Linked DNA regions of Homo sapiens. The protein of the gene in region 1 purifies or fractionates together with the protein of each later gene. This does not show direct contact. Each region holds a gene or a part of one and is shown in the gene's direction. Other genes may lie near its edges.

Evidence for each region.
Region 2: the proteins of ALDH3B1 (region 1) and OBSL1 purify together in Homo sapiens (affinity purification with mass spectrometry; 4 studies listed by BioGRID and IntAct, with this or other methods). This does not show direct contact.
Region 3: the proteins of ALDH3B1 (region 1) and PPM1A purify together in Homo sapiens (co-immunoprecipitation; 3 studies listed by BioGRID and IntAct, with this or other methods). This does not show direct contact.
Region 4: the proteins of ALDH3B1 (region 1) and ZMYM4 purify together in Homo sapiens (affinity purification with mass spectrometry; one large-scale study listed by BioGRID and IntAct). This does not show direct contact.
Region 5: the proteins of ALDH3B1 (region 1) and TRIM65 purify together in Homo sapiens (affinity purification with mass spectrometry, with the first as the bait; one large-scale study listed by BioGRID). This does not show direct contact.
Region 6: the proteins of ALDH3B1 (region 1) and DMWD purify together in Homo sapiens (affinity purification with mass spectrometry; 2 studies listed by BioGRID and IntAct, with this or other methods). This does not show direct contact.
Region 7: the proteins of ALDH3B1 (region 1) and TLK2 purify together in Homo sapiens (affinity purification with mass spectrometry; one large-scale study listed by BioGRID and IntAct). This does not show direct contact.

Annotation. Positions count from the first base shown.
Region 1 is NC_000011.10:68,020,327-68,023,826, forward strand, and holds part of ALDH3B1 (aldehyde dehydrogenase family 3 member B1), read left to right. Parts: intron 1-1,158; coding exon 1,159-1,545; intron 1,546-2,268; coding exon 2,269-2,435; intron 2,436-3,500. UniProt on the Homo sapiens protein: Oxidizes medium and long chain saturated and unsaturated fatty aldehydes generated in the plasma membrane into non-toxic fatty acids. May have a protective role against the cytotoxicity induced by lipid peroxidation.
Region 2 is NC_000002.12:219,552,384-219,554,539, reverse strand, and holds part of OBSL1 (obscurin-like protein 1 isoform 1 precursor), read left to right. Parts: coding exon 1-66; intron 67-853; coding exon 854-966; intron 967-1,515; coding exon 1,516-1,672; intron 1,673-1,842; coding exon 1,843-2,004; intron 2,005-2,156. UniProt on the Homo sapiens protein: Core component of the 3M complex, a complex required to regulate microtubule dynamics and genome integrity. It is unclear how the 3M complex regulates microtubules, it could act by controlling the level of a microtubule stabilizer.
Region 3 is NC_000014.9:60,296,904-60,299,587, forward strand, and holds the end of PPM1A (protein phosphatase 1A), read left to right. Parts: 3' UTR 1-2,184; downstream 2,185-2,684. UniProt on the Homo sapiens protein: Enzyme with a broad specificity. Negatively regulates TGF-beta signaling through dephosphorylating SMAD2 and SMAD3, resulting in their dissociation from SMAD4, nuclear export of the SMADs and termination of the TGF-beta-mediated signaling.
Region 4 is NC_000001.11:35,383,709-35,387,208, forward strand, and holds part of ZMYM4 (zinc finger MYM-type protein 4), read left to right. Parts: intron 1-1,733; coding exon 1,734-1,884; intron 1,885-2,365; coding exon 2,366-2,481; intron 2,482-3,294; coding exon 3,295-3,500. UniProt on the Homo sapiens protein: Plays a role in the regulation of cell morphology and cytoskeletal organization.
Region 5 is NC_000017.11:75,891,208-75,893,951, reverse strand, and holds part of TRIM65 (E3 ubiquitin-protein ligase TRIM65), read left to right. Parts: intron 1-1,101; coding exon 1,102-1,197; intron 1,198-1,412; coding exon of another isoform or gene 1,413-1,451; coding exon 1,452-1,685; intron 1,686-1,766; coding exon 1,767-1,941; coding exon of another isoform or gene 1,942-2,073; coding exon 2,074-2,139; intron 2,140-2,604; coding exon 2,605-2,744. UniProt on the Homo sapiens protein: E3 ubiquitin ligase that plays a role in several processes including innate immnity, autophagy or inflammation.
Region 6 is NC_000019.10:45,786,346-45,789,845, reverse strand, and holds part of DMWD (dystrophia myotonica WD repeat-containing protein), read left to right. Parts: intron 1-2,974; coding exon 2,975-3,500. UniProt on the Homo sapiens protein: Regulator of the deubiquitinating USP12/DMWD/WDR48 complex. Functions as a cofactor that promotes USP12 enzymatic activity.
Region 7 is NC_000017.11:62,477,525-62,481,624, forward strand, and holds the start of TLK2 (serine/threonine-protein kinase tousled-like 2), read left to right. Parts: upstream 1-1,300; 5' UTR 1,301-1,766; intron 1,767-1,919; exon of another isoform or gene 1,920-1,953; coding exon of another isoform or gene 1,954-2,089; intron 2,090-3,243; exon of another isoform or gene 3,244-3,263; intron 3,264-3,596; coding exon of another isoform or gene 3,597-3,601; coding exon 3,602-3,682; intron 3,683-4,100. UniProt on the Homo sapiens protein: Serine/threonine-protein kinase involved in the process of chromatin assembly and probably also DNA replication, transcription, repair, and chromosome segregation. Phosphorylates the chromatin assembly factors ASF1A and ASF1B.

The DNA of each region.
Region 1 (3,500 bases):
GGGTTCAAGTGATGCTCATGCCTCAGCTTCCCAAGTAGCTGGGGTGACAGGCATGTACCACCACGCCCGGCTAATTTTTTGTATTTTTAGTAAAGACAGGGTCTCACTCTGTTGCTCAGGCTGGTCTCGAACTCTTGGCCTCAACCAGTCCTCCTGCCTTGGTCTCCTAAAGTGCAGGGATCACAGGCATGAGCCACCACACCCGGCTTCGAGTTTTTGAGCTAGGGAGGGGCAGAGGGAGCGAGAGGAAGACAGTGGTGCTGGCAGGCGAGTCTGCGCCTTACAGGTCGAGGCAGTCGTGGGGAAGGGCCTGGCAGGATTGACCTGGCCGCCTCCCAGCAAAGGCAAAGGAGCCCTGGAAGGAACCACAGAGCCCAGGAAGCACTGTGCCAGGATGGGGCAGGGGTGAGAGTAGAGAAGGCACAGTGGCTCCTGCCGGCTTTAATCCTTGACCACAAGGGGGAGAAATGCCAGGGCCATCCCCACAGACGCAGCAGCGTGGTCCCCGAGTCAGGTCTGGAGAGGAGGCCTTGAGGCCCAGACAGGGCTAGGGCAGAGAAGGCTGTGTGCATGCGGAGACTGCTGGGCCCCTGGAGGCCAGCACAGAGGAGAGGTGAGGCCAAGCCAGGCAGGACATGGGGACGCCTGCATCAGCCTGGGACAGTCCACCTCAAGGGTCAGAAAAAAAGGGCTGGGCAGGTGGCAGAACTTCCAGGTTTAGGTTTAGAGAAGAGAGACCTGAATGCCGTAGACAGAGCTGGACTCCATCCTTGGGTGATAAGGGATCCCCGAAGTTTCCAAAGGAGATGGGTGGGGAGGGGTTCCATGCAGCATTTTGCAAAGAGTCCCCTGCAGGGTCAGCCAGGGTCACAAGCAGAGGCGGGAGGAGCCAAGGGGTTTGGCTCAGCAGGGGGACCCTGGGGGCCGATAGCAGCCGTGCACCATTCCCTCCTGAGACTCTGTGCTTAGGGGCTGGTCCTGATGAAGGATGAGCAGGGCCCTGGGCTGCAGGGTGGCAGTGAGGAACAAGGAAAGGCCAGGCGAGGGCTGCTGCCCGCTGACTCCACCACCTCTCCAGGGAGGAGCGGGGCCGTGGGCTGGGCCATCCCGCCTGGTCCAGGTCACTGAACGGCCACTCTGGTTTCCTTCCATGCCCAGGGAGCCCTCGTGTGGGCAAGATTGTTATGACTGCTGCCGCCAAGCACCTGACACCTGTCACCCTGGAGCTGGGGGGCAAGAACCCTTGCTACGTGGACGACAACTGCGACCCCCAGACCGTGGCCAACCGCGTGGCCTGGTTCCGCTACTTCAACGCCGGCCAGACCTGCGTGGCCCCCGACTACGTCCTATGCAGCCCTGAGATGCAGGAGAGGCTGCTGCCTGCCCTGCAGAGCACCATCACCCGTTTCTATGGCGACGACCCCCAGAGCTCCCCAAACCTGGGCCGCATCATCAACCAGAAACAGTTCCAGCGGCTGCGGGCATTGCTGGGCTGCGGCCGTGTGGCCATTGGGGGCCAGAGCGATGAGAGCGATCGCTACATCGGTGAGTCCTGCTGCCCCTACCACAGCCCACCTGGGCCAAGACCCCTCCTCACTGGAGGGCCCAAGGCTGGGCCACAACTCTGGACCCGCGCCTGAAACCTGGCCCCACTGCCAGAGCCCGGCCTTGAGCCACAGCTCCAGTGCCATGATTCCGTCTCTGTGCTTCTAAGTCTGTGGCCCTATGAGGCCAAACTCTGGTCCCTCACCTTGGATTCGCTGAGCTCAGATCCCAGGGCTCCAGGGCTCAGCGTGCTAAGATGAACTCCCATCCCACCACTGGCTATCCTGAAAGGCTGTAACCTCAGATTCTCCGAGCCCACAATCCCCAGGTTCTAAACTCCGAGAGTCCCGTCCTGAGCCCCCAGTCTCCTGGGCCGTACGGCTCAGCAGCTCATGGGACACTGCGGCGCCAACATTCTGGGACGCTGTTGCCTCATGAACTCCAAGGGTTCTAAGATCCCATCACCCCTGACTGTGAGACCAAGGTCGGGGGATTCTCTGTGTCCCACAGGCCCTGAGCAGGCTGGGGAAGCTCTAGAGTCCCTTCTGGGGGGCTGTGGGGAGACTTTCTTCCCTAAACACTCCAAAGCCTGAAGCCTTGGGAAGTCAGACCTTGGGATCCTGGCCTAGAGCCCTGGCCTGTGGCCCTGTCCCCACCTCTACCCCCACCCTGGGGGCGGTCCTGACTGTGGCCCCAGGGCTGAGCTGTCTCTGGTGCCTGCAGCCCCCACGGTGCTGGTGGATGTGCAGGAGATGGAGCCTGTGATGCAGGAGGAGATCTTCGGGCCCATCCTGCCCATCGTGAACGTGCAGAGCTTGGACGAGGCCATCGAGTTCATCAACCGGCGGGAGAAGCCCCTGGCCCTGTACGCCTTCTCCAACAGCAGCCAGGTGGGGGTGCGGCCGGGCTGGGCAGGGTCAGGAGCCCGCAGTGGGCAGCACAAGTGGTGGCAGCAGGGGGGGCACCAAAATCCAGTGGCTTCAGGACTTTGGGATGGTGGACCTCTTGGCTCTGTCTCTGCCCACTCTCCTGGAAGCAGCTGAGCCTCACCCACCCCAACCCTGTCCCCAGTCTGGGCCCCACTCTCCTAGGCCTTCAGTGGGCAGCTTCCTGGGGTATGGGCCTTCTCTAGGGTCCAGTGTTTCCTCTAGGTCAGCCCCTGCCTTTGTCCTTCTTACACATCGGGGCCTGGTGGCCACATGACCCCTCAAGCCTGGCTCTGAAGGCACAGGCAACGTGTCGGGGATGACCCAAAGGTGCAGGTCCAAGAATGAGCCCTGATCCCCTACCCCTGCTTAAGCTGCAGAGGCAGCCTGGGAGGCCCAAGGCCAGAGTCCTCAGATTAAAAAACACCAAGAGGTACCAGCAGTCCCTACCCACCCCGCCCCCTTCCCCGGCCCTCAGCCAGTTCCTCGATTCCCTCCACTTGAACTTTTTTTTTTTTTTTTTTGAGACAGAGTCTCACTCTGTCACCCAGGCTGGAGTGCAGTAGCACAGTCTTGGCTCACTGCAACCTCTGCCTCCCGGGTTCAAGCGATTCTCCTGCCTCAACCTCCTGTGTAGCTGGGATTACAGGCGTGTGCCACTATGCCCGGCTAATTCTTTGTATTTTTAGTAGAGATGGGGTTTTGCCACATTGGTCAGGCTAGTCTTGAACTGCTGACCTCAGGTGATCCACCTGCCTCGGCCTCCCAAAGTGCTGGGATTACAGGGATGAGCCACCGTGCCCGGCCACTTGAACTTTTTTTAAATAAACTTTGTATTGGGAAATACTTTTAGATTTACAGAAAAGTTGCCAAAATGGTACAGAGAGTTCCCATGTACCCCACACCTAATTTCCCCCATTTAATGGTGCTTAGATGGGTCAAAACTAAAAAAGTGATGGCAGGGCTGGGCGCGGTGGCTCACACCTGTAATCTCAGCACTTTGGGAGGCCAAGGTGGGAGGATTGCTTG
Region 2 (2,156 bases), on another chromosome or scaffold:
CCGACTCAGGCTGTGTCTCCTTCACAGCGGATTCCCTGCGCTGCGCAGCCAGACTCATTGTGAGAGGTGTGGCCTCCAGGACCACAGCCTGCCTGCTGACCTGTGTGGCCCTACTTACCCCAGGCATGAATACTGACCCCCAACTCGTGTGACCCCCACTGACCATGCCTGTCTCAGTGTGGCCCTCATTGACATCCCTGCCAGAGTGTGATCCCCCTGACTCATAGGCCCTGTGTGGCCCCAGAGTCCTCTGCCTGGGTGTGGCCCCTGACTGCCCAAGGCTCAGCCAACCACTGACTCTGCTACCAAGAGCATGCCTTTGCCATTGTGGTCACTGCTGTCTGCCCGCCTGCACACCACCCCACTGACCACTCTAACTGTGACCCTACTGGCTACACTGTCTGCCGTGGCTCCCTCTGCCCGCCTAAGTGTGGGCCCCGTGACCACTCCAGTCCCTTGAATCCACTGACTGCCTACGGGCGACATCACTAGCAAGTCTGCTTGAGTGTCCCCCATTTTTACTTCCAGTCCCAGGATGTTCCCACTGACCACTCCACTGGCATCTCTGCTTGTTTCCCCATTGCCCTCTGGCCCCCAGCTTCTCCCCCACTGACCACCTTAAAGTGTGACTCCCAGTTGGCCACTCCTAACCCATTGGCCCTGTGGCCCTGCCCACCTACATCCCCCCCACCCCCACCACTGACAGATCCTTCTTGGACCACTTGTCCCAGCTCGAACCCCACTCGCTAGTGTCCTCTACTGCCTGTTGTGCCCAAGTGTATGTCCTCCTTGTCCCTGCAAGATGGGTCCCCATCCTGCTCCCTCTGCACTGTCCTCCCTCTCCCACCCCCAGAGGTCCCAGTGACCATCGTGCGGGGGCCACACGACCTAGAGGTGACCGAGGGCGACACAGCTACGTTCGAGTGCGAGCTTTCCCAAGCTTTGGCTGATGTTACCTGGGAGAAGGTCAGATCCCAGCCCCAGCCAAGCCCACTTCAGTGTAACACCAACGATAATAATGCCCCAGACAGAAACAGCTAATATTCCTTGAGCGGATGTGCCTGGCACTGTGCTAAGATTTGCATTATATTTAATCCCTTACTCCAAGGACAACTCTAGGAGGTAGGTCTTGTCACTGTAATACCTATCAGGAAACTGATGCTCAGTGGGAAAAATTACCTACCCAAGGGCAGACAACAGGTAGAGCCCATATTCGAATCCAGGTTTGCCTAACTCCAGAATCCGTGCCCATGTCCCCTGTGATCGATACCTGGCTCTGGGCTTCCCGAGTGCCTTGGCGGCCCTAAGGTCCCCAAAGGGTGACGCTTTTTCAAAGAGGCTCCTGGCACGACCCCAAAGGCTTGGGGACAGTCCGACCCCAGCCTGGGAACACGAGACACGCATAAACGCGCCTCGAGACCGCTTGGCATCAACAAAGGGTGCGCCGCCTGCCAGGGCCGGGGTCGCCTGTGCCCAGCCGGGCTCGCCCCGACCCTCTGCAACTCCCGCCCCTAGGACGGGAACGCGCTTACGCCTAGCCCGCGGCTCCGGCTCCAGGCCCTCGGCACGCGCCGCCTTCTCCAGCTGCGACGCTGCGGCCCCTCGGACGCCGGGACCTACAGCTGCGCGGTGGGGACGGCCCGCGCCGGACCGGTCCGCCTGACCGTGCGCGGTGGGTACGGGGTGATGTGGAGGCTGGGCACTGCTTTGGGCGCGAGACTTGCGGAGCTGTCTTCCCCGGACCCTGATGACCGCGCGTGCTTCTAGAAAGGGGGCGTGGAGGGGGCGTGACCGGTAACTGCCCTCTGCCCCGCCCCGCTCACGCCCCGGGCTCCGCCCCAGAGCGTACTGTGGCGGTACTCTCCGAGCTGCGGTCGGTGAGCGCCCGCGAAGGCGACGGCGCTACGTTCGAGTGCACCGTGTCGGAGGTCGAGACCACGGGGCGCTGGGAGCTCGGAGGCCGCCCGCTGAGACCCGGAGCCCGCGTCCGCATCCGACAGGAAGGTCTGCCCGCCTGGTTACCCTTTCGGGCCCCTCGCTGCCCCGCCCAGGCTCGAACAGATCCCGCCCCACCGGGACAAGCCCCGCCCCTGGCTCCGACGGGCCCCGCCCCACGGCCCTGTGAGCCTCGTCCCTGTTCTTTCCCCCGCCCCCAG
Region 3 (2,684 bases), on another chromosome or scaffold:
TAGTGGCTTCTGCTCTCACTGTTTTCCTATTTATATTACTAGCAGGTAGGAGTGCTAATTAGAAAAACTTAGATGGTATTGAAATTACAGTTGACAACTTATATTTTTATGAGATGGAGAAAAAAGATTAAGTTGATATAACAACAAAGTGGACTTTTTTTCTTCCTTATCCTGCACGAAATATTGCCCTTGTTTCCTCTACTTTCCTCTTGGTGTTTTCTCTTTTTTTCAAACAGAAACAGGCCAATTCCATTTTCTTGAGCAAGAAAGCTTAGTGTGTTACTTCATCAAGGCCAGCTAATACTGTGTTAAACCGGGCTGAAAATGAGAAAACTTGGGAGATGGAGGAATGGGGAAATGGCAGTGGGATAGGTAGGGAAGGATTACTCTTAATTGTTTTAAAAGCCATAGGAAAGTCTTCCTTGTACGTGGCTGTAAATTTATAAGAACTATTGTGTCACATAAACCAACAAGAATGAACCTTTGCTGCTTCAGATAATTTGATTTTTCCAGCAAGGAAATTAATAAGTTACTGATTCTTCAGCATAGAAACAACTGAGAAGAATTAATGCAATGTTTCTTCACTAGAAAACCCAACCCTTCATTTCTTTTCATTGCTCCAAAACCCAGTTTTCAACTAATGGTTTTCTCATTAAACTAAATGTTTAGAAAAGTTGTTTAGAGTTTTTCTTTTTCTTTTACATAGTCCTCCTGATCCAGTATAAGACTATTTAGTAACGTGCATTTGTATGGTACTATCTAAAGTAAGTTAGATTGATGTAAGAGATCGGGTAGCTGCGGAACAAAATTAGTTATATCCTAATTAGGTACAGTGAATGACACAAAATCATTTTAGCAATGCTTCTTAACCTTTTGGGGTCACAGGCGTTTTGAGACTGATGAATCCTAGGGACTTATTTACCCAGGAAAATGCGTATATAACATACATATCTCCCTAAAGTTTACAATATTGTAGTGGTTCATGGGCCCCCTGGTTAAGAGCCCATTCTAAAGTACAATAGGGCATCATCCCTTTTCCTGCAAAGCCCAAAAGTATATTTCTAGGGCATGAAAATAACTTGAGTCTATTTTAAGGAATTGTTTCACTCTAGAGGTAGATAGGGGACCTGGCTAGAATCTGACATTAAAATATACTTTTTAAAAAATATTATATTTGGGGTGGGGAAAGTGATTAAAAGGTGAAAAAAAAACATAGTATTCAGAAGTTTTGGAGGTTAATGTCTTTCTCTAAGATTTGCCACTTTAGAAATTCAACAGAAAAGAGGTAAAACAGAAATGGAATGTATCTGGAACATTTTTGGCCTCCATAGTGCAGATATACTATATTAACAAGTAATACATTTATTTACCTGTCAGATCTCCAGGTTTTAAGATTTTGAGCTTTCTAGTATTAGGATTCATTAAATGTTCAATTCATTTCATATTCTAAGGAATTAGGTTATTTACTTACTAATTCAGGATGTTAAAATAACATCCAAGTCGGACAACCACCACCAATGCACACAGTTAATGAGATTTCTAAAATATAATAAGTACAATGTAACAAACGTATAGAATTTTGCATTTGTTGCCAAAATTAGATGTTTAATGACAGCTTATTTAATTCCCATTTGTGGGACTTCTGGAACATAGAAACCATTATCTTACCTGGTTATCCCTTGACTAAATAGCATATCTGCAGGAAAATATCTTGTTTGTAGTGATATGCCCCAATAGTGATTGATTTCACTCTTGAAATGAGTTATATCACTTAATTTGTATAAATGTTATGAGTGGAGAGACATGTACATGTTAAAAGCATGTTGCATTATATATTCATTTTTTAAACTCTATAAATGTTAAGAATAATATAATTGCAGAAATATTTTTCTTAAATACAATGTGTAACAAAATTCTCCGTAGCAACTCACCCACTTTGCAGTTTATGTGATCCACACTTTTAAAGAAATTCCATAAATGTATATTTTGTATTATGTATTATTTCCTGGTCCAAAGAAAATATGTGAATTCAGTTCTAACTTTAAGAATGTACTGTTTGTTTTCAAGTTCATTGAAAAATTGCATTCAGCCTGCGAATGGTTGCAGATTGTATGTTAGATGAAAAGTAGAAATAATTTCTAGTTTGGAAAACTGGTGCCACTAAATAAACAGGCAATTACATAATGTGTGTGTATTTATGATTGTTTAATATTGCAAGCAGCATTTTTATTCCAAGAAACGTGGAGAATTTGAAATTAGCTGTTGGAAGACCTTAAAAGAATTGTTTTTTTCAGCTGAGAAATAAATCTGATAGGATTTGAACTAGATTTGTTCCTTCCTAATTTTAGGAAGTTTACTGAAAGCCAAGAAGTTTGAGTTGATGGTTATTGTCATGAAACATTCCAGAAATAAAGAAGCCAGAGTAGTTTCTCTTTGGTAAGAACATTCCCATTTGTCTGTCTTCTAGTAGATGATTACTCCCTTGAAGAGTTGAAATTGGGAATTGGGAGTGGTCTGGGAAAGGACTTCCTCACCTGGTATCTGTGGTATAGTGCCTGCTTCAAAATGGCACTTAAATGTGTGTGTTTCTAGGATGCAGAAAGGAGGTGTTTATTTCCTCTGCCAATTCTGATCATTGGCTATATTATATCCTGTGTTCATTCATGTCTGAAAGTGACTTAAAC
Region 4 (3,500 bases), on another chromosome or scaffold:
TAATTTTAAATTTATTCTTTACTTTTAATTTAGTCAAAACCTATTAAATTTTTCATGTATTATATCTGCTGTGGTAGAGAAAGAACTGGAATTTAGAAGTAAGGCAGATCTACATTTAATTCTAGACCTTATGTTCAAATACAGTTTTACCTTGGGGAAAGCAGTTAAGCTCCCTGAGTCCCAGTTTTTCTGTCTGTAAATAACTATGATACCACCTATGTCACTGGGATGTTTTTAGGATTATAGAAAGTAAGAATGAAAGAATGCCTAGTATGTAACTGAGGCATTGTAGATGGTCATTTCTGCTACCTTCCTTTCTTCCTTATATATAATTCATTCAACAAACATTAGATATAATTTCTGTTTTGAGGGGCTGCCTGTCTCCTGAGAAAGATAAGACGTATAAATGAGTAAATAGAGATGCTATGATGGAAGTATTATGGGTACAGTGGGCCACAGAGGTAGCATAGTGAGCTCTACTTGATAGGGAAAGATGAGACTATCAGCAGAAGCTTCACAGAGGTAACTCTTGATCTGGGTCTTACAAATGAGGTTTGCTTTTACAGTCCTCATTAGGGAGGAGAGGGAAATGGGGTTAGAGATTTAGAAGACATTCCAGAATTCAGGCATATATTCACTTTACTGTGTATTTATTTTAATATCAAGTTTTACAAATTGATTCTTTAAGAAGGAAGATTGCTCTTAAAATCTCCTAATTGGTGCTGGACGTACTTTAAAAATTATCCTGAATGTGTGACATGTTAATAATACTTAGCATTATTTGCTGCTGAATCCCTAATTGGGTGAAGACTTAAGATAACGGACTCTGGTTGTTTGTATTTGGACACCTGTGATGATATCCCAGGTTTGCTCTTACTTTACGCTTATGGAGTATTTTTTTTATTATTAGTGGTAGAATATTTGCCAATAAGTTGCCTAATAAGGTTACTAATTTCCTTAAATTCATATTTACAAGCACCTTTGGAGGGGGTTATTTCAATTTATAGGATGATATAGTATAAAAGCATGAACTTGCTGTTATTTAATGTTTTTAAAACTGTGGTTATGACCTATTAATAGACCCTGAAATTAATTACTAGGTTATAACCAGCATTATTATTTTTTTCTTTTTCTTTTTTTTTTTTTTTTTTGAGGTGGAATCTTCTCATTCTGTCGCCAGGCTGGAGTGCAGTGGCACGATCTCAGCTCGCTGCAAGCTCTGCCTCCTGGTTCACGCCATTCTCCTGCCTCAGCCTCCTGAATAGCTGGGACTACAGGCGCCTGCCACTATGCCTGGCTAATTTTTTTTGTATTTTTGTAGAGGCAGGGTTTCACCATGTTGACCTTGCTGGTCTTGAACTCCTGACCTCAGGTGATCCACCCACCTCGGCCTCCCGATGTGCTGGGATTATAGGGGTGAGCCACTACGCCTGGCCGCATTACTTTTTCAATGAAATAGAATAGATTGGAAAATATCAAAGTGCATTACATGTTATCATGATATTTATTCCTCTATAAAACTTTTTAGTTTTATTACATACATGCATCATACACAAATGCAAAATCTCAGAAGTACATGTGTACCATGAAACTTCCTATTGAGGATTACAATCATAAAAGTTTGAAAATCACTGATTTCAAATATTTCAAAAGTGTTGAGTATAAACATTTCGAAGAATTATGCTTTTACTAGGAATTTGTTAAAAATGAATGTTGTTTTATTCTCTTAATAGAAATCAGCCAAAATTACACCGTGTGCGCTTTGCAAATCATTGAGATCCTCAGCAGAAATGATTGAAAATACCAATAGCTTGGGGAAGACAGAGCTTTTCTGTTCTGTTAATTGCTTATCTGCTTACAGAGTTAAAATGGTTACTTCTGCAGGTAATATTGGTTTCACAAACTATGAAATGCAATGGTTGAAAAATAATGGTTATTGCTTTGTTTTTAACGGTTTTTTTTGGTTGATTTTTAAGGCACATTTAACATATTTCAGATATTTGTTGTAAAATATCACCTGTTACCTTGATTGCTTATTTATTTACTTGCATACCTATTTATGCATTTCCCCCTTACCAAAAGAATTTCATATGGCTTCTTTAATATATTTTCTTTTTCCCTACCTAATTTCTTTGAAGTTTCATTTATCTGGTAGTTTCAGGGTAGACTTTGACCAATTTAAATTGGAAAGAAACATTTTCAGTATTATGTTAGTTTTTGTCTATATGTGACATGATTTAGTTTCAGTTCCTACAACTTACCCTGGCTCTTAAATTTTCTTATATTGTATAGTATTATTTAATTTCTCATACTTTTGTGTACATTTGTACATATTACTCATTGGTTTTTATTTTGATTTGCTAAGGTGTACAAGTTCAGTGTAACAGTTGTAAAACCTCAGCAATTCCTCAGTATCACCTAGCCATGTCAGATGGAAGTATACGCAACTTCTGCAGCTACAGCTGTGTGGTAGCTTTCCAGGTATGGCTTCAGGAACCTTCCTCTTCTTCAGTCAGTGAGTCACCTACTGTATGAGTCTGTTCTTGCACTCCTCTAAAGAAATACCCTAGACTGGGTAATTTATAAAGAAAGAGGTTTAATTGGCTCACAGTTCCACAGGCTGTACAGGTAGCATGGCTGGAGAGGCCTCAGGAAACTTTCAATTATGGCGGAAGGCGAAGGGGAAGCCGGCACGTCTTACATGATGGGCTCAAGAGGAAGAGAGAGAAGCGGGAGGTGCTACACTTTTAAACAACCAGATAGTGAGAACTCACTATCACCAGAACAGCAGGGGAGAAATCCACCCCCATGATCCAGTCACTTCCTGCCAGGCTCCTCCCCCAACATTGGGGATTACCGACTGGACATGAGATTTGGGCAGGGACACGAATTCAAACCTATCACCTACTATAGTAATGCACATTTATTAGGTGTTTGCTAGGGCCTGGGTTGTATAAGTTTCTATATCATTCCTATTAAACTTGGATTTGTAGTTCATTCTGTATTTGGAATTTAATTTAACTGCCTTCTATAAAATTGAATGGTACTTTTATCACCCATATTATCTATTGGGAGGATATTATTTTTGAGGAAGATTATTAGTTAAGTTATTTTATTTTTTCATCATAAATGAGACTCCCCCCATTCCGTAATAAGCTGCTCAGAGGCAGGAACATTGCCTGTTAACAGATGTACCTTACATGCCTAGAACGGTGCTTGGCATATGTAGGCACACAATACTTCTTTGTTTTAACAAAGATTAAATTGATACTTTTTGTTGTTTTGTTTTTCCAGAATTTATTCAACAAACCAACTGGAATGAATTCTTCAGTAGTGCCCTTGTCTCAGGGCCAAGTAATTGTAAGCATCCCCACAGGTTCCACAGTGTCAGCCGGAGGAGGTAGCACATCTGCTGTTTCTCCCACCTCCATCAGTAGCTCTGCTGCAGCTGGTCTCCAGCGTCTCGCTGCCCAGTCCCAGCATGTTGGGTTTGCACGAAG
Region 5 (2,744 bases), on another chromosome or scaffold:
ACTGCTCATGGGCGGGTGCAGAAGACTGAGCTAGGCACGGAAGTTTGAGTTGGAGGCCGGTAGATGAGGGCCATGTGGAGGAAGGGAGCGACAGGGGCAGCCAGTAGCACCAGGGGAGCCAGGATTTTGCAAGAGAGAGGGAAAGGGACATGGGGGTGCCTGTCCCTGGGGGAGGGTTGGGTGCCCTGGGAGAGCCTGCCCTCCGGCCTCCTGTGTTCCTGTGTGAAATGCTGGAGGCTGGGGGCCCGGAGGAGCTCTGGGCTTAGGAAGATCTGAGGACTTTGACCAAATTATCAACTTCTCTGAGCCCGTTTCCTCCTCTGTGATGTGGGGATAGTAATGGTCCCCATCTCAGTGCATTGCGGGAGGAGCAGAAACAAGGTGGTGAAGCTTTTGACCAGGTGCTGGGAATGGAGCCCCTGGGACCTGCGTGGTTTGTCCTGCTCTCATGAGAGCACGGTGTTTTGATTCCCAAGGGACTCAGGGAGCGCAACCGAATAGGGGTCCCTTCCTCCCCTCTCAGTCTCAAAACTAGGGCCAGGGACTGGCCGGATCCCCAGAAGAATCTAGTTTATCCAGCAAGTAACTGCCCACTTGTCAGACAGCTTTGGTGCTTTGGGAGGTCCCTGCAGTCAGCTTCTCAAGCCCCAGGGCCTCCTGGGCCACTGACCCCTCTGCAGTGAGACAGGGACCAACGGCTTTAGTGTTTGGGGTCCTCCCTGCGAGGCCTCCTGAGCCAGCATTATCGCTTTCCTGTATTGATGGGTGGGGGGTTAGGCCCAGAGAGGACAGGTGCTTGGCCTCAGCTTGCTCAGCATGCAAGAGGTAGAAATGGGAATGGAAGTTGGGTCCTGAGCCCAAGGCTTCCGCTCTGCTCAGGCACCACCCTGCTGCAGATTAGGAAGGACTTTGTCTGGACCCCCCCGGGGCACGGCCCCAACTCTCCCTGGGTTAGACCGAGGCCGGTGCTCTGGAGGCTGGCCTGGGGTGGCGTGGGGAGGGGCTGCCTGGTGTCTGCAGGCATGGTTGGTTGTCTGAGAAAGGACATCACAGCCAATCCTGGCCTTCTCTTGTTGCTTGTCCCGTGGGCCCGCACCACAGGCCCAGCTGAGAGCCAGCCTGGAGGTTACCCAGCAGCAGGCCACCCAGGCCGAAGGCCAGCTACTAGAGCTGCGCAAGCAAAGCAGCCAGATCCAGGTACGAGGCCTGTGCCTGCCCGCCCACCATGGCCTCACACTGCATCCTGGGGCGGCCACCAGCTGGTCCCTGGAACACCAGGCAGCAGGGAGCGGGGCTGAGCAGGGAGCTGGGCACAGGGGTCCTGGGGAGGTTCCCGGGACCCTGCCTCCCCACATCCCTGACCCTCAGCCCAGCAGGCAGCCCTGGCCCTAGCCTCCCTTGGTATGGCACAGGGCCCTGGCCACCCTGAAGCCCCTCCTGTTCCCGCCCAGAACTCGGCCTGCATCTTGGCCTCCTGGGTCTCCGGCAAGTTCAGCAGCCTGCTACAGGCCCTGGAAATACAGCACACGACAGCACTGAGGAGCATCGAGGTGGCCAAGACGCAGGCGCTGGCACAGGCTCGAGACGAGGAGCAGCGGCTGCGGGTCCATTTGGAGGCTGTGGCTCGCCATGGCTGCAGGATCCGGGAGCTCCTGGAGCAGGTGGATGAGCAGACCTTCCTGCAGGTGCGAGGGCTCAGGGCATAGGTGGCGGACTTGCTTCCCTGCCCCTCAGGCCCAGGCTTACTTGTTCTCCCTGGGGCTCAGGAATCGCAGCTCCTCCAGCCCCCAGGGCCTCTTGGGCCACTGACCCCTCTGCAGTGGGATGAAGACCAACAGCTGGGTGACCTGAAGCAGTTGCTAAGCCGGCTGTGTGGCCTCCTCTTGGAAGAGGGGAGCCACCCTGGGGCACCAGCCAAGCCTGTGGACTTAGCCCCCGTGGGTAAGACTGACCCCAGGCCTCCCCCTGCTGTCCTGGGTCCAGCTGCCCCTCCCGCTGGGGGGGTGGAGGCGGGTCAGGGCCCACACATCGTGACCTCTCCAACCATTCCCTTAACACTGCTTTGCCCCCTAGAGGCCCCAGGTCCCCTGGCACCGGTCCCAAGCACAGTTTGTCCACTGAGGAGGAAACTCTGGCAGAGTAAGGAGGCCGTTCGTGTATGTGTGCCCCTGTGTGTGCGTGTGCAAGGAAGTGCCTGTGTGTGCTGTGAGCACGTGTGTGTGTGCATGTTCGTATGCACGTGTGAGTGAGGGGGGCACTTGTTTTGACTGTCCTGCCGGGACATCTGAGCCTGGTCCCACCCGCTGCACACCTCGTGCACATCCACCCTGAAGCAGACGCAGCCAGTGTGCGTTGAAGGACAGAGTCTGGGGCACAGACCCGTAATTCTTCCACTTAACACTGAGTTAATGGCTCTCAGAGCCCCAGTTTTCTCAGCTGTGAACGGGGCTGATAGAGGATTCCGCCTGCGAGGTCGTGGCGAGGATTAAGTGCTATGGTGACGGCCGGTGCTCAGCGTGCCTGGCGGAGGTTTAGCAGCGGATAAATGGAGATCTGGTTGTGCTGTCTTCCCCCAGCCCACTGCTGTCCTCCTTTCCCCAACAGATTATCGCAATCTGACCTTTGATCCAGTCAGCGCCAACCGTCACTTCTATCTGTCGCGCCAGGACCAGCAGGTGAAGCACTGTCGTCAGTCCCGGGGCCCAGGCGGGCCCGGCAGCTTTGAGCTCTGGCAGGTGCAATGT
Region 6 (3,500 bases), on another chromosome or scaffold:
TGGGGTTTCACCATGTTGGCCAGGCTGGTCTCAAACACCTGACCTTGTGATCCGCCCACCTCGGCCTCCCGAAGTGCTGGGATTACAGGCATGAGCCACCGCGCCCGGCCATTCTTTGAGTTTTCATCAACCAGTGGATACAGAAGTGTGCTGCCCATTTTGCAGATTAGAGAATTGAGGCTAGTAAATAAGTCGGGACTTAGTTGATGCCCTTGCTCTTTGAGTTCTGGGCTCTGGAGGCTTTGGATTCAAAGCCCTGCTGCACCATTTACTCATCATGTGACTTTGGGAAGGTGACCATTCTCTGAGCCTCACTTCTCCTCCTCTGCAAAATGGGATTCCAGTTCCTACCTTGCAGGACCGCTGTTGTAGAATCATACATGGAGATTGCTCAGTCCTGGGCCAACTTGGCCTACGAGGAGATACCAGTAAACGACCTTATCCGCGGGCAGGGACTGCTCTTGGCTTCTGTCTCATTCTCTCTGGTCCAGAGGAGGTGTTCCATAAATATTCTCAGAATGAGTGAATGGCTGAAGGGAGTGAACGGAACAGTCAGTGGATTAAAAATTCATTAGCTCATCCATTCACAAATAGTTTTTGAGCATCCGTTCTGTGCCAGGCACCGTTCCCAGCACTAGGGATATCACATCTCAGGGCCCTGGACAGGAGGCCCTGCCCTTTTGGAGCTTTCAGTCTAGCTGGGGAGACAGACAGTTAATCAAGTTAAGTCTTCGTGTGTCAGCAGGTGATTAAGGCCTGTTTAGAAGAAGCAGTGGGGAAGGGGCTGAGGGAAGCTTGGAGAGTTTAGTAGGGTGGTCAGGAAAGCCCTCACTAAGAGGTGATACTGAAATAAAGACCTGAAGGAGGCAGGTGAGAAGAGTTGCCTGGGGAAGGGCATTTTTTTTTTTTTTTTTCCTGAGATAGGGTCTCACTCTGTCGTCCATGCTGGAGTGCAGTGGTACGATCTTCGTTCACTGCAACCTCCGCCTCCCAGGCTCAAGCAGTCCTCCCATATCAGCCTCCTGAGTAGCTGGGACTACATGCATGCACCACCACAACTGGCTAACTTTTGTATTTTTTGTAGAGGCGGGGTCTCTTTGTGTTGCCCAAGCTGGTCTCGAACTCCTGGGCTCAAGCTATTCTCCTGCTTTGGCCTCCCAAAGCGCTGGGATTATAGGCGTGAGCCATCACACCCAGCCAAGAAGGACATTCTGAGTATCGGGGCCAGCTAGGACAAATGCAGGATTGCACAGAAGCCGTGTGGCCAGTGCAGTTACTGAGGGAGAGAAGATGGTAGATGAGTTCCAAGAAATAACGGAGGGGCTGGCTCATGGAGAGTCTGGAAGGTCACGGAGAGATTTTGCCTTACTCTTAGTTGGAAGCCTGTGGAGGAGCCTTTCTCATTGGGGCTCACCTGAGCCCTGGAAGGCAGAAGTGACTAGAGTGATTATTTGTTCAGTTCTCCCAGGGATGGGAGGCACCTCATCCTGGGAGAGCAGCTCCTTAGTTGCATACACTGGCTGCCTGAGAGCATTAGGGCCTCAGGCTCTGGAACCCTGCTTGAGAGAGGCTGCGAAGTGTTCAGAGCAGGACAGTGCCAGGTGCTGGCTGATACTTCACAGAGCATCGCTGTGGCGGCTGCAGAGGACAGACAGGCCCAGGCATTGGAGCCTGAGGCCAGTCACACAGCATTGCAGGCTTGGGGTGGTTGAATGGGATGGTGAGAGGAGGTCAGATTCTGGGTGTATTTTTTCTTTTTTTTTTATTTTGAGGTGGAGTCTCGCTCTGTCGCCCAGGCTGGAGTACAGTGGCATGATCTCCCCTCACTGCAACCTCCGCCTCCCGGGTTCAAGCAATTCTGCCTCAGCCTCCTGAGTAGCTGGGACTATAGGCGCCCGCCACCATGCCTGGCTAATTTTTGTATTTTTAGTAGAGATTTTGTATCTCTACTTGTATTTCACCATATTGGCTAGGCTGGTCTGGAACTCCTGACTTTGTGATCCGCCTGCCTCAGCCTCCCAAAGTGCTGGGATTACAGGCGTGAGCCACCACGCCCAGCCACTTCTGGGTGTATTTTGAAGGTCGAGCCCACAGGATTTGTGGAAGGATTGGATGAGGAAAAGAGGGGCAGATGCCGAGGTTTTTTGTCTAAGCACCTAGCGGGATGGGGGGTTGTCACTCATTTGTCCAGGAATTACCTTCAAGCTGCCTCCTGTGTGCACTGCTTTAAAGAATAGTGAACCAAACAAAGATCGCTTCCTTTGGGGAGCTGCCTTTCCGTGAAGAAATTTCCTACTTGAAGCCTGACGTAGTAAAGATCGGGGGAGGGTTAGACAGATACAGTGGTCCCCAACCATTTTGGCACCAGGGACTGGTCTTATGGAAGACAGTTTTTCCACAGACTGTTGGGGGGATGGTTTTGGGATGAAACCGTTCTGCCTCTGATCATCAGGTGTTAGATTCTAATAAGGAGCGCACACCTAGATCCCTCGCATGCATAGTTCATGGTGGGGTTCGCACTCTTACGAGGATTGAATGGTGCGCTGCTCCGGTAGGAGGCTGGGCTCAGGCTGTAATGCCTGCTCGCCCACCACTCACCTCCTGCTGCATGGCCTGGTTCCTAACAGGCCACGGACCACTACTGTTCCATGGCCCGGAGGTTGAGGACCCCGAGATACAGGACAATTCTGTGGCAAGCAGGACTGTCCCCTCGCCAAAGATGGGACATCGAGGCTCCTTGGAGCACCCTGTGGCCACCTTGCAGCAGCCTCTGTTTCCCCATGTTTCCATGACCTGGTGTCCATCTGTCTTCCCCAGTTTGGGAGCTTCTCTCCGAGGAGGACCTGGGCCTGGTGTGGCACCTGCTGTGTGAGCGGGGCCATGTCCAACGGCCTTCTTGGGGACTTTGGGTCGGGGAGAAGTTCTGCCTGGGTTTTACTGCCTTCTCCCAACCCCACACTGTCTCCCCTGGCAGCGGTTGATCGACAAGACCAAGGTGACATATCTGAAGTGGCTGCCTGAGTCGGAGAGCCTGTTCCTGGCATCACACGCCAGTGGCCACCTGTACCTGTACAACGTCAGCCACCCCTGCGCCTCGGCCCCGCCCCAGTACAGCCTGCTGAAGCAGGGCGAGGGCTTCTCTGTCTATGCTGCCAAGAGCAAGGCACCCCGCAACCCGCTGGCCAAGTGGGCGGTGGGTGAGGGGCCCCTCAACGAGTTCGCCTTCTCGCCCGATGGCCGGCACCTGGCCTGTGTGAGCCAGGATGGCTGCCTGCGCGTCTTCCACTTCGACTCCATGCTCCTGCGTGGGCTCATGAAGAGCTACTTTGGGGGCCTGCTGTGTGTGTGCTGGAGCCCTGACGGCCGCTACGTGGTGACGGGTGGCGAAGATGACCTGGTCACCGTGTGGTCCTTCACCGAGGGCCGCGTGGTGGCTCGAGGCCATGGCCACAAGTCCTGGGTCAACGCTGTGGCCTTTGACCCCTACACCACAAGGGCAG
Region 7 (4,100 bases), on another chromosome or scaffold:
TAAGAGAAGAACGAAGAAATAAGGGCAGAAACTCCACTGGGGAGTACTTGTCTAACCCTGAAAAAGTTCAAGGCTGTTGTTCAAGGTCTGAATTTTTCCCTTGAGATTTGCTTGTAGTCCTTAAAGTCATCTTCAGACATCTGATCAAGGCAGCATCCGCGGAAAATTATAAGGTGGGTGGCTGCACTGGAGCCTGTCCTGGCTCAGGGGCGCCGGTGAAGAGTGATTTTTTTCCCTTGGCCTTGGGGGATCAGAGGGGGTGCCCTCTGCTATGCAGGAAGCCCTCCTTGCCCGCTAGATAGTTCTCATTCCTCAGGAGATACTCTGTGAGGGGCCGGCGTGTTTTCTCCATCTTGGCACTTACCCTCAGACCCTCCTAAGTACCCGGGAGGGCCGTGTTTTTCATCGGAGGTTGAAATGGAACCTCCCCCTGGGTGCCCGGGGAGAGTACCTTGGGGGCAGCGCCCCTCCTTCCGGAGGGCAGCATCCCCGCGGGGGCGGGGGCTCGGCTTTGATCCCAGGGCACCTTTTGTCCCTGGAGACGCTCTGCCAGCCAGGTACGTGGAGGGAGTGCAGCCCGCCCTCCCGGGCGACGCGCGGGGCTGGGGCGGGCCGGCGGCTCCGGGGAGTGGCGGCCGGGAGCCCGCGAACGCGGGTGGGCGCCGTCGCCTCACTAACCGGGCGCCTCCGGGAAGTCCGGGCGGGGTCCGCCGCTCACACATAGGATTAGCGTCCTCTAAACTCCATCCCTGGGAAAAGCCGCCGCACTTCTCACCCAAACTCGCGGAGCCGAGGGGCTGGGCAGGGGTTGGGCGGGCGCGGGGGCCGGCGAGGCGGATCCGGGAACGGGTGGACCCGGGCGGCCAAGCCCCTTCAGCGCCGGCCCAACCGCCCCGGCCCGGGCCAGTCCAGCGGGGCGGGGGCCGGCGACACAAAGGCGGCGGCGGGTCCTCCGGGCCTCCGGCCTCGGGCAGTCGCAGGGCGCCCCGGGCCGCCGGACCTCCCCTCGCGTTGCGGCCCGTCAGCCGGCGCCGCCCGTCGCCCGCCCTCAGCCGTCCGGCGAGGCGCGGCTTCCTCCGCCGGCGCGGGGTCCCCTGGTTAACCCCTGCCCGGCAGCGCGGCCGCTGATTGGAGAAGGCGGGGCGCCGGGGCAGCGGGGACCCCCCCCCACCTTCCTCGTCCCCTCCCCCTGCTCCCCCACTGTCGGCGCTTCCCCCACCCCCCCAGGACCCCCCCCGCCTCCCAGCCGTGCAAATCTCGCGAGGAAACACGCGGTTTCACTAGTGTGTTTACACCGATCACTACTAATCCGGACCGAACCGATCCGGATTAAGGGGCCGGAGGCGGGTCCTGGGCACCAGCGGTTCCGACCCCCCCGCCCTCCGCGCCGCACCCGAGTGGCCCCCAGCCGAGCGGGCCCCCACCTCCTGGCCCGGCCTGGGCCCTCCTGCGCCTCCCTTGGCCTTTGTCCGGCGCCAGGAGGCCGGTCCCGCGCCCCCCGCGGCCGCCCGGGCCCGGGCCCGCGTCGGGCGCCTGGCTCTGTACGCGAGCCCGGGGATCTGCGGCCTTCGTGCCCCCCCTCCCCCGCCCGCCCTCTCGTGGAGCCCGGCGCCGGCGGCGGCTGCCCGGGCGGGGGGTTGCGGCGCTCAGGAGAGGCCCCGGCTCCGCCCCGGGCCTGCCCAGGGGGAGAGCGGAGCGGTCCGCAGCCGGGTCGGGTCGGGGCCCCTCCCGGGAGGAGCGTGGAGCGGCGGCGGCGGCGGCGGCAGGTGAGAGGCTGAGCCCCGGGCGGGGGAGGACTCCAGGCCTGGGGCATTAACCGTCCTGGGGACCCCTTTGGCCTGAGGAGCCTGCGACCTGGGCCCAGCTCGGGGCCGGCTCCGGACCGCAGCTCCTGGGCGCTGAGGCGGGAGGGGCTCCCTGAGGGCTGCGGGTCGCTGAGGGGCCGGGCAGAAGATGGGGGAGGCCCAGGCGGCCCCGGCCTGGGATTGGGGCCGGCGGCCGGAGGAGAGACGGGGGCCCCCAGGCAGCTGGAGGCCTCGGCAGCCTCCCGGGCGCCCCCGAGAGCCGGCCCTCCCTTCCTCCGTGACAGGTGGGCCTGGAGTTGGGGAAAGTTTGGAGCCGGCGAGGGGCGCCGGGACCAGGCCCCATCGCTCCTGCTTCCCGGCTGTGGGCTGCAGGGAGGATCCCAGTCCAAGGCCCCGCTGGAATTAGACGGAGTGGCTATTTCCTTAACATGAGTTGACATTAAACGGAATAACCGCCGGGGCGTCATTTTCCGGGCCGGGCCTGGGGATGGAGGTTTGGGAAGTGTTGCGAGAGACCTTGGGGTTTGGGAGAGACTGCAACCTTTGCCATTCCGACCTCGATTAGGGCAGGGCAAGACGCGAGGAAGGCCACGGGGGAAACTCATTCTCCCAGTCTCTTTTTTTTCCTTCTTTTTCTTTTTGTAAAGATGCATTTCAACCTTTCTGAGAATTTCCTAATTCTCTCTCTAACCTGCACTTGCATGTGTGGGTGAAACTTTAATTTGTCACCTTTTCATTCCCCTTTGCCCCAGGCTCTCAATCCAGGAAGGGAAATGAAACTGAAGGACTTGTAAGGGGGTTGTTACTGGAGATTGTAGAGTTGTTGGATTGCAGAGGAGAATGTTCGATTCATCTTTTCAGTAACTTTAAAATCACACCAACCATTCCAACTACTTAATAATGTGTTCGAAGGGGTTCTATGTAATATGTTTCTTTTCCACTGTTAATATTAAAGAGAGGTTTTAAATGGGTCGTGTAGGAGTTGGTCTCTTGCAAAGGATGAACATATTTGCTGAAAGTAGCCTGTGCATTAATTGGTTATGGAAGTTTAAAAATGGTGTCCTCCTGCCCCTCCCTGCTTGGAAGAAGGGCTAAAAGCAGATGTCCAGAATCAAGAGAAAACTACTGCAGGGAGTGGTCAGAAAAAGATTTTTTAAAGGGATTGTTATGGAGCTATATTAATTTACTGAGTGAATGGAGGTGGATGGTTTTACCGTGGGCTCTCTATTAAATTTAAAATAATTCCTTTTCTCATGAGCTACTGTGAGCTCTTCAGAGACAGGAGCTGTATAATAGTGATTTTGCAGTTATTTGTAGCTTCTGATTCATCCTATATTCTTTTGAAATTATTGTCAATGATTCATATTTTTAGTTTAAGGACTACTTCCTGAGTGGGAAATAAATATCTGAAGATACTTAGCTAGATTAAGGCTGATAGAAGGAATTTTCTTTTTGCAGGCTAGTTCTTGTTTTGTTCTTTCCCCTGTGCTCAACTTTTACAGAAATTATATGAAGGGTTTGAGGGGTTTATTTTTGCTGTTAAAATCAAATCAGAACTAGGGAAGAAAAAGTGGCTGTCATAGAAGAGGACTTCTGAGCTGCTTTAAAACTTTTCAATATATTACTGTTTGATGCAGCACATAGTAGTCTACCACTTGTATGCTATATTTACTTGAGATTTACCTGCATTTGATCTTTCAGTGAAATAATTACTGTGAGTTTTGTTCTACAGAAAATTGCCTCCTCACATTTTAGTGTTTATGGTTTCACAGCCTACTTTTTCTTTTTCAGCAGAAATGATGGAAGAATTGCATAGCCTGGACCCACGACGGCAGGAATTATTGGAGGCCAGGTTTACTGGAGTAGGTGTTAGTAAGGTGAGTAAAATGATGATCATGAACACTATTCATATTCTAATTTAAACACATTTTTTAAATGATTAAGAGCAATTTGGGTAGGCCCTTCTGATAGTTTGCAGGGGAGAAGATTTGGGTCTTAATTTCAGTGAACTTTTAGATCCTACTGGTCATTCCAGTAGTCATTTAACATAGTAGGTTTGAAAATGTTCTATATGGGAATATATGTTTCTTCTTCCTTTCTGGTATAGGAGAGGTTTCTCATGGTTCTTGTTACAAGGAAACTAACAGGATGTGTGTATAGATTCTATGCCATATTTTGTTAAAACTTGTCAGCCATTCAGAAAGAAAATTACAAGGCATTGCATAGCTTTGTTACATTGGACTTTGGAGGTAGTTACATGGTAGAGTATTGAAAAATTGGCCTCTGTGAAGTCTG